Regions from separate parts of the Homo sapiens genome. Here region 2 is linked to region 1. The links come from fine-mapping of genetic effects on gene expression. A gene starts in region 1. The other region holds a variant in brackets. All regions are shown on one strand. Distances are from middle to middle.

Region 1 (5,394 bases):
ATAGTATAAGGCCACTTTAAAGATTGAAATTGAACATTTTTAATTTCTGTGCTTTTATTAGCCCTAGATTAGAAAAGATATATGAAGATTATTGACTTCTGAGAAGGATTTTACATATGCATTTTAGACAAGTGGGAAGCTATTTGAGTCCATCTTCTTCTGCTATAACAGAATACCATAGTCTGGGGCCTGGAATGGTGGCTCACACCAGTAATCCCAGCACTTTGGGAGGCTGAGATGGGTGGATCACTTGAGGTCAGGAGTTTGAGACCAGCCTGGCCAACATGGTGAAACTCCGTCTCCACTAAAAATACAAAAATTAGTCAGATATGGCAGTGCACACCTGTAGTCCCAGCTACTCAGGAGGCTAAGGCATGAGAATTGCTTGAACTTTGGAGGCAGAGGTTGCAGTGAGCCAAGATCGCACCACTGCACTCCAGGCTGGGCAACAGAGCAAGACTCTGTCTAAAAAAAGAATACCATAGTCTGGGCATTTATTTGGCTCATGGTTCCAGAGGCTGGGAAGTCCAAGATTGAGAGGATACATCTTTATATTACATCATAACATAGCAAGAAGGGAAATAAGAATGCAAGACAGAAAGAGATAAACTAAGCCAAACTCATCCTTTCTATCAGGAGCCCACTCCTATGATAACTAACTCATTCCCACAATAAGGGCTTTAATTCATTCATTAGGAGAGAGCCCTCATGACCTAATCACTTCTTAAAGCCTCCACTTCCTAATACTATTAGAATGGCAATAGGCCAGGCACGGTGGCTCACGCCTGTAATCCCAGCACTTTGGGAGGCCGAGGTGGGCAGATCACGAGGTCAGGAAATCGAGACCATCCTGGCTAACACGATGAAACCCTGTCTCTACTAAAAATACAAAAAATTAGCCGAGTGTGGTGGTGGGCACCTGTAGTCCCAGCTATTTGGGAGGCTGAGGCAGGAGAATGGCATGAATCTGGGAGGCCAAGCTTACAGTGAGCCAAGATCGCACTATTGCACTCCAGCCTGGGTGACAGTGCAAGACTACAACTCAAAAAAAAAAAAAAAAGAATGGCAATTACATTTCAACATGAGTTTTGGTGGAGAGATTCAAACCAGAGCAGACATTAATAATATACATATATATTATGTGCATTGTTATGTTAAAATTGAATAGCCATTTATGTTTAGAGAACAAACCTACCAAAATTGTCCATTTTAGTAGGGCCCATTTTTCTAACCAAATACCATGGATTAAAAGCTGAATTTAAGAAGAGAAAGAATCTTAAAAAGTTGTTAAGCAAGGTTAAATCTAGTTTTTCTTTCTCACACAGACTCTGCTTGTGACTGTTTCTTGGATAATTGGCACCTTGTGAAATAATCGCTAATAATAGTTATCTTTTAGTGGATTCCTGGCACCGCCCTCAGCTGAGCGCTGTAAGTATATTATTACATTTAATCCTCTCAACCATCTTATGGGATCGATATTATTAGCTCATTTCACAGAGGAGAAAGTTGAGGCTTAAAGAGGTGATGTAATTTTGTCCAAACTAAACAGCTGGTAGGTTGAGGAGTCAGGGTTCCAATCCACTCTCTCAGAATCTGTAGCCACCTGCTCTTAGTCACTGCTGTGTGTCAGTCTCCCTTGGCACTAGATACAATGGTGATTAGGGTAGCATAATGAGCCTTTTGGACTGCTTGCAAACCATGAACTACTGCATCTTTGAGTTTTAAGGGCTTAGCTTAGGACTAGGGGATATGCATGGAAGCCCAAATCATAGGTGTCCTTTATCTGTGGGATCAAAGTTTGTCACTCAGCATCCTGAACATTGTGTGCCTTTAAACAAGGCAAATCTGATACCATAATTTGGACAACAACTTAGCCAAAGCATCATTTCTGTATATGGAGGCCAAGTAGTACTAACAAACATGCAAATTCTAATTTTAAAACTCAGACAAACATTTTACAGCTAAAACAATCCACCCCCTTTTGGCTAAATAACTGAACAAAATTTCCCCTACAAAGGCAAAGTTCAATATTTTCATTTCTGTAAAACTCTGACCCATGTCACTTTTCATCAGTGCTGCACTATCTGTGAAGTCCCCTTCTAACCTAGAAGAGTTAGCTTCCTCCCTAACATACTTGGAGAAAGATTTGGGCATACCGCAGCATTTCATTTCCTCTTTGTCTAGCTTGATGATAACTCGTCACTTTTCAAACTGTGAAGATGAAATCAGGAGAAGAGTGTGAAATATCAGTATAACAATGGCCACTTCCCACCCCATGAGACAAAGAAGTGAAAGGCTTAGTGATTTGTATGATGATGAGCACTACAGAAAACATTCAAAGCTTCTAAATCCCAGGGATTTCCTGACTTCAGTTGTGAGGGCCAGCCACACTGACATCATAGATCCTTCCTGCAGTCACAATGCTACTAAGTCACCCTTGGGAAGAGGCCCCAGAAACAGGAAGACCTTAGTTAGGATGCAATTACAATTCCTTGGTACATTGGCTTCCTCAGAAAAAAGAAAAAAATCACAGAGATTGTTTTTCAAAAATATCAAATCTACAAAAAATAAAGCTGGAAAAGCAAGCATCATGAGTTCAGGTACTTATGGACTATTCGAGGTCTCTAAATTTCTCCTACTTCACTATCTTTCTTCTGTTTCTTATTACATATAAACAAAATAATGAATCCCAATGAAGACCCTCAGAAGGCTTGGGCACAACAGAGTAATAACTTAAACAAATGTACAAGAAAAAAAAACCCCATCAAAAAGTGGGCAAAGGATGTGAACAGACACTTCTCAAAAGAAGACATTTATGCAGCCAAAACATACGAGAAAAAGCTCATCATCACTTGTCATTACAGAAATGCAAATCAAAACTACAATGAGATACCATCTCATGCCAGTTAGAATAGTAACCATTAAAAAGTCAGGAAACAACAGATGCTGGGGAGGATGTGGAGAAATAGGAACGCTTTTATACTGTTGGTGGGAGTGTAAATTAGTTCAACCATGTGGAAGACAGTGAGGTGATTCCTCAAGGATCTAGAACTAGAAATACCATTTGATCCAGCAATCCCATTAATGGGTATATACCCAAAGGACTATAAATCATTCTACTATAAAGACACATGCACACGTATGTTTATTGCAGCACTGTTCACAATAGCAAAGACTTGGAACCAACCCAAATGCCCATCAATGATAGACTGGATAAAGAAAATGCCGCACATATACACCATGGAATACTATGCAGCCATAAAAAAGGATGAGTTCATGTCCCTTTGCAGGGACATGGATGAAGCTGGAAACCATCATTCTCAGCAAACTAACACAGGAACGGAAAACCAAACACCACATGTTCTCACTCACAAGTGGGAGTTGAACAATGAGAACACATGGACACAGGGAGGGGAACATCACACACTGGGGCCTGTTGGGGGTTGGGGGCTAGAGGAGGAATAGTATTAGGAGAAATACCTAATGTAGATGATGGGCTGATGGGTGCAGCAAACCACCATGGCACGTGTATACCTACGTAACAAACCTGCATGTTCTGCACGTGTATCCCAGGACTTAAAGTATAATTTAAAAAAAATACATTCCTGATTATTTTAGAGCTGTCTGATCCTAAAAAAGTTTCTAAAGGTCTTATAGAAGTATCTGTAAAGAAATGCTCTTCTAGCTAACTATAGATGTTATGGGGGGATGGGGGAGAATTGGGATAAGTGAGGAGAGGGGAAATGTAAAGCAAATTGAAAGCCTCCCTTTAAGCCAAGCTATATGTACAGAAACTGCCCTCAATTAAAAAAAAATTAGCAGCACTGCAAAAATTCACTTGTCATAGTTCCTGACCTGATTCAGCATTCTGGTTACCTAGATACAAATGTAAACAAAAGTGCCTCTCCAACTGCGACTGCAGAGGAACAGCCAGTTGAACCTGATGGCCCCCTTCCTGGCTCAGACAATAACCAAGAAAAGAAAGCAAGTACTTTTCAATATTCACATTAAAAGTAGAATACTTTGCTCAGCTTCTTTAAAGTTTAGAGTGCTTAGAGAGTTTAAGAAGTTCTGGAAGAATAGTTCTCCCACATTTCCTGTTTGTTCTGTCTTGGCAAAATGGCTGCTGAAAACACAAGCTGAAAAGAAAAATGACCTCAATTTACAATTTCATTAATTAGACTGATTTTTAATATATGGGGCTAAAATTCTTTTAAGTTGATCATTATGTATGTTTTATGATGATTCAAAAGGAACCATGATAAACTCAAGGTGCAGACTTTATCTTTATCTCTAACATGAAAACCGGTATAGCTAAATAGAATGTTTCCTTTATTAGAACTTGTCGTATCTTCTCCGTTAAAAAGAACATTTTTTAAAGCAGTGTTTTTAGACTTTTTTTGCACTTCTCTTAACACCTTGTAATTTACATAACAAGAGGCAGATGCAGTCACTTGTTACATAAAGCACTAGCACAATATCAAACATTGATTTTTGGTATGTATTATATAATAGGCTGTACCACATACTAGCTGTGGGACTTTGGAATGATTACTTAACCTCTGTTTCTTCTTCTGTAAAATGGGTGAATTAGGCTTATCATACAAAGTTATTGTGGGTTTGAATGAGTCACTTAAGTAAGTGCTTAGCAAGTAGGAAGGGCTACAGTATGATTATCATCATCATCTACATGATCTTGGGCAAGTCCCGTACTTCTCTGATCCTGAAGCTCCTCACCTATAAAAAATAGTCATCTTAATTTCTTTCCATAATAAGGGTTTCAGCTTCTTAAGGTAACTAATGTCATCCTTACACTAATGGGAAGGTAATGATATCCACTTTATAGGGCATTCATGTCAAATAAAATTATGTCATATACAAGAACGTATTTCATAGCCCATAAAACCAAAAAGCTATAACATTCAAAGCATTATTATGAAATGGATAAAACTGATATATGTAAAAAAATTCCCATAGTGGCCATCAAGTTGTTTGTGAGACAGTTTTTATATATAATAACATCCTAGCTTATAGGAATGAGGATAAAACAGAACTGACTCTTATGTTCAATTAGCAAAGATATAAAAATTTAAATACTGTCTTAGATACCTAAAAATTACATTTAAAAAATTGCACCAAAAGCCAACATCAGTGGCTTTTGTTCTAGGTAGCAAAATTACAAGCGAGAATTTTTATTCTGTATCTTTAACTTTTCTATACTTTTCCAAATATTCCTCCATTGTTATGCTTAACATTTGTCACTTAAATAGTGTGTGTTGTAGGTGTGTTTTTAAGAAGATGCTACTTGTGGTCTTTCAAGTAAGACTTAAAAATTAATAAAATAAAAATAAAACATAGATCTAATTGTTACACTTCAGAAGGAGAAAGGAGGAC
Region 2 (5,394 bases), 23 kb after region 1:
CATATGGGTATAATGTTATAAGTGGATGAACCATATTCATAAAGAAATAAGTCAAGATTCAAAATGTATAAATGCATAACACTATGGTAATTTTATGCAACCAGCTTTATAACTGTAGTCATCTGAAACACCATGACGATAACCTAAGTCTTTTGATAAGATTGATCCAAAACTTCAATGAGTCACTACGGCATATGCAATTGCACAAAGAGCTGAGATCTTAAGAAATTTTATCTTTCACAAATGCAGTTGTACAAAAAAGGACATCTCTTCATTTATTGGGGAAGTTTCAACATTTTTACATACACAATGCTTACACACAAAGTCAATGTTGTGATAATGCACTTTTGTGGAGTCAAATTGACAAAATATACATAAAACAAATTAGAACTTTCTGAAAGTCTTTATACAATTTATACTCCAGTACTGCAAATGATGTGAAGATGAAATACACAGCATAGCAAATTGTGAAAAGTAATAATAACAATGCTGACAATTTAAGATAGTGGGAAAGAACTAGAAAGAAAATTCAACGTTTGAAAAAGTATATTACAGGGATACATTATGGGCAATTGCCTGGAGGTAGTCCATTAGAGCTGGCCAACATTCACAGTCATATTTTGAAGTCTTGCATGGCAATGAATTGCTGCTTTTTTTTTTAAGACATGACTCTCGTCAGAGAATATGTTCACATTTCATTCCTTTTCCACATAGCACTGCTCTTTTTGAAATTCTTCTATGATTCGACATACACCAACATGAGCAATCCCTATTAAATATTTCCATCTTTGCATAATTTTTCTATGCTGTTTTCGGTACACAGAAATTCATTCCACATGCACTCATATGCAGAAGCAATACTGATAATCAAATAGTCACACTATTGTGTGTCTTCTTATCTTACTATGTGCATAATTATATTTGAACCAGTTGGTAACTTTGCTGGCTTCTTCAGGCAAATGTGGCTTTAATTCATTAAAATTTCCTAAAATGTCATTAGCTGGGAGGAATGCCACTGCAAACAAATGAAATATTTTTAAACCATATGGGGTGGCCAATTCACTTGTCTGAATTTTTCACCATATGCATTGGGCTGAATGACAAAAACAAATTTTATTGATGACACCTTGAGATTCACTTTTAGAAGCCTTGAAGGGACTTAATTCCAAATCTGTCATGGTTTGGGGATTCTACTAAAATCCATTTTCTTCTGCAAAGTCCACCAAATCTTCAAATAAATGTTTATAAAGTGCTTTACTTTTTCCAGTCATTAATATATAAAGAAGCAGGTAAGTTCAAGAATGTTTGGATCCAACTGGGGCATGATGGCATACAGTTGATAAGAAAGATGGGGACGATTTTCAAAGTGTCATTCCTCAGCCAAAGTGAAGGATGCACTAGGTTGTCTATGTTAGATTTAGTGGCAAATATAGGAAGTCTATCTTCTTTGACAGTCAAATCCCAAACTAAGAATATTTCATCACTCAATGAGTTTCAGAACACTGGAGGAACCTCTATATCGGCAAGCATCTTTGGTTCAGAATGTTGCTCAGCTTGTGGAATTCTTTTTATTCTCTGATGAAGAGTGTTTTTTGAAGGCAAGCATGGCACTATGTGTGAAGGGGCAGAAGTCATACATGATTGAATCATTTGACAGGGGACATTTGTTATATTTTTCACCTGTGTTTTTACTTTTTCTATGATTTTCGAAACACTCAAAACATTGAGAATAGATCTTTCTCACGTTGTGCACTCAGACTCACACACTAATCTCCTCTGGAAACACCCTCACAAGATACACTGCTACACCAGGTTCTAGGTATCCCTTAATCCAGTCAAGGGATTTTAAACTTTAGGAATTTCAATGTTTGAGATTATGTCTTTTGGGATTATGATTGGTACCATTCATGAACTAATTTCCTTAACTATGAAATTAGAATAATTCTGTTAGACAATATGAAAATGTACAATGTGAATCTCTAAGGGAGAGACATCATATGCAAGGTTTTCTAAGTGTATTTGATCATAGAATTCTTTTGTGGTGGCCTATCCTCCTGACTCCTATTCCAGGACTCACACCTTGGAAAACTCTCTAACACAGTCACTTTTGCATCTTTATAGTTATAAAAACTTAATTTTTTCTACGTTAAAGTAGAATTTTCATAAGGGGTATATAAAGGCGTCAGTCTTGGAAGAAGGCTTCTAACATCTTCTTTCATGAATGCCTCTACCCACTCCTAACTACCACCAATTGGCTTGAAGCATGAAAAGTGCATCTGCTTCTTAGATGAGACCTTCACCAAATTCTAACCATGGCAAGTGCTTAAAATCCTATCAAACTTCTCACAGGGCAAAAATAAAGGATCAGAAGTGAGGATTCTAGTTCTGGTTCCTGGCTCCTCCAGCTCATTCTTG[T/C]AATGCCCTGGTGTTTCCTTTTCCTTTTTCTGATCAGGAGTCATGCTTTTCTCCCCATCATTCCAAACACCCAGAGAGGTCAGCTAGAAGACAGACTGAACAACCAGGCGCGTACCATAGCTTTCCTTCTTGAACAAGCCTTCCGCATCAAGGAGGACATCTCTGCTTGCCTGCAGGGGACCCATGGCTTTCGAAAAGAGGAATCGCTCGCCAGGAAGTTACTGGAAAGCCACATCCAGACCATCACCAGCATCGTCAAAAAACTCAGCCAAAATATTGAGGTAGTTCTCTTTTTGTTTTATTTTGTTTTTGTTTTGTATTTTGGCAGCATTGCTTGATAAAGATTATCAACCATCAGTGTCATTTTTCAAGTGCAGAAATATATCACTATTGCTTAAGTTTAGATGATTACATTTTAGTGGTCTAAGAGGGAAACAGTTCAATTTTTCAGCTGTTCATTTATGCCAAAAAGTAGAAGGAACTTCTATTCAAAAAATATTTACTGTATATTTATTTTGTGACAACAAAGACATTATGTCAGACATTGTGCTAAGATGCTTATGTTAGCCTAAATCTCCAAGATTCTATTAATGCAATAACTTCAAATAGAGGTTTTCATAATGCACATCAGTAACGCTCCATTGTATAGCCATTGCAATCTGATGCCAGCAATTTCTCTAGCCCCGTCTTCTACCCTTCTTTCCTTCACTCTGGCCACACTGGCCTCCCAGCTGTTCCTAGGACATTCCAAACACATTCTGGCCTTGGGGTCTTTGCACTCATAATTCACTCTGGCTGGATCATCTTCCCCTAGATATTCCTATGCAACGTGCTTCATTCCTCCAGGTTTCTGTTCAAATATAGCCTCGTAACAGAGGATTTGCATGACATTTTATAAAATAGCACCTCTACCCACATGGTTTCAATCTCCCTTAAAGCCTACTTTATTTTTTTTGTCACATAGCACTCATTGCAAACTACCATGGTCTATATTTGATTCCTGTTTGTTTTCTCTTTCTAAGATATAATCTCTATAAAGTCAAAGAGTTTGTTTTCTTCATGCTAAATCCCATATCCCATACCAGACAACAGTGGTGTTGTAGTCAGCACTCTAAATATTCCTTAAATTGATGAATGAATAAATTAATTAATTTTAAGGCATTAGAGTAAAAATAGAGTTTCTCATCAAAAAAAGAAAATTCTTTGTCTAAATCAAGAGAAACATGCTTGTGTAAGAGGTCTTCGAGAGTTGCTAGGGTGCAGATGTACGTGATGAATCTGGGTTAACAATTTTCATGCAAGGGCTACAGATAGTGTACTTTAGGAAACTGGCCCAAAACTTGTGGAGTTATCATGAGAATTGACAACAATGCAGTCTCACGATACTTGTCCTTTTCTACTATCAAAGAGAATACTGGATTTTATTAAAATTATGGGATTGAACCAGCAATTACTCCTTTGTGAATTTGTTCTTAAGGGCAAGGATATTGATTAATTCATTTTCCATCTGCAGGGTTTAACAGACCCCATAATGTACCTGAGGCAGTGTGAAAAGTTAAAACTCTCAGTGAACTTTTAAAAAGCACTTTATTGGTATTTAGCACATTTTGAATTGACCTCAGTGCTTCAAAGGTCAATGCCACTCTCAAAGTGATTAAAGGTATTTCCATGCATAATGAAGTATCATGAAAGTGACAAGAGGCAAGCAGCCCTGTGCCTTTTGAAATGACTAGAAAATCAAGTAAGTACAGCATAGTGCTAAAATAAGATTCCAATTTAGGAGTCAAAACTTCTTGGTAATTGAAAAAGCCAACAACATTCTTAGAAACATTGAACTGTTTCTAAGAATATTCTATATTTTGATCTGGATTGTTATATGGTTGATTACATTACATTGAGTCAAGATCCGCCCAGATGTACACTTTGACTTGTGCGTTCAATACATATTATACCCCAGTAAAATACTATTAGCAATAAGGAGAAAGTCTTTCTTTCAAATCTCTAGAAATCTTGTAAACAGTTTATTTTTCTGTAATAATTGACTATCTTAGATTAGCTCTCTAAAAAAAGACAAATCCAAAACATTTTCCAAAAGACAAAGACAAAAATCTCAAAATACCTACAATCCTATTAAGGGTTTGGCATATATAGGAAAATGAAAAGGACTGGATTGAGTTTGTGGAAAATTGAACTAGAAAATATTTTAAAGGCTGTAGATAACATAGTTAAAACATTATGAAGAAGAAACTATTCAGCTACCTTTAGTAAATAACTATATGCACTTTATAGAGAAATGGATGCTATTCAAGTATTTTAAAAGAACCTAACCTCATTAACCAGGTCAGCCCATTTGCAAGTTGGCTATCAAGATCAATTCAAGTGTGAGCTAAAGCTTGACACAGGTCCATAAATGAAATGAAAAAAAAATTTTTTTAATCTACCACAATTGCATCAAAGTGCTTGTTTCTTTTTAAAAATCAAATGATTCCTTTTTTTAAGAAGGCAGTTGATTACAAGTTTTAGAATTAATTTATTTTTAACTCAAAGAAAATTTTATATATAGCATTGTTTTACTGTGGGTTTTCCCCTCAACTTACAAAAGCAATACTTGTTCATCATAATTATTTTGAAAGTTTAGGAAAAAAATGTTTAAACTTGGGGAAAAAATATCTCACAATTCAACCACCAAATGGTGATCTCTACAAATACCCAGATGAATCTCCCTTTAGTCCTTCCAAGTATTCCATTTAGGAGGCTGAGACTATGTTTGTAAGCATGATTTTTATTCTAACATTCATCCTAAACTCTATCATGTCTCATTAAAATCTCTTTGCATGGTGCATACACCATGATTTGCTTAATTATTGTCCTAATGTCGAAATATCACTTTGGGGGGCTGAGGCAGTAGGACCAATTGAGCCCAGGAGTTTGAGAACAGCCTGGGTAACATAGTGACACCCTGTCTCTACAAGAAAAAAT

The links.
Region 2: its variant is fine-mapped to the expression of FAM81B in whole blood (TOPMed, PIP above 0.99). The same link has a PIP of 0.9 or more in blood mononuclear cells.

The regions. Positions count from the first base shown.
Region 1 is chr5:95,388,914-95,394,307 of GRCh38, forward strand. FAM81B (family with sequence similarity 81 member B) reads left to right here and starts at 2,453. Exons shown (of 10, transcript NM_152548.3): 1 at 2,453-2,600; 2 at 3,881-3,984. The coding sequence starts at 2,477. LOC105379089 (a long non-coding RNA gene) reads right to left here and starts at 2,259. Exons shown (of 3, transcript XR_948586.1): 1 at 2,157-2,259. RefSeq lists an enhancer at 3,613-4,470.
Region 2 is chr5:95,411,495-95,416,888 of GRCh38, forward strand. It overlaps FAM81B (family with sequence similarity 81 member B), which reads left to right. Exons shown (of 10, transcript NM_152548.3): 4 at 2,453-2,696. Among named protein-coding and RNA genes, the nearest start is that of FAM81B, 23 kb to the left of the region's middle. The variant T/C (reference allele first, on the strand shown) is at 2,416.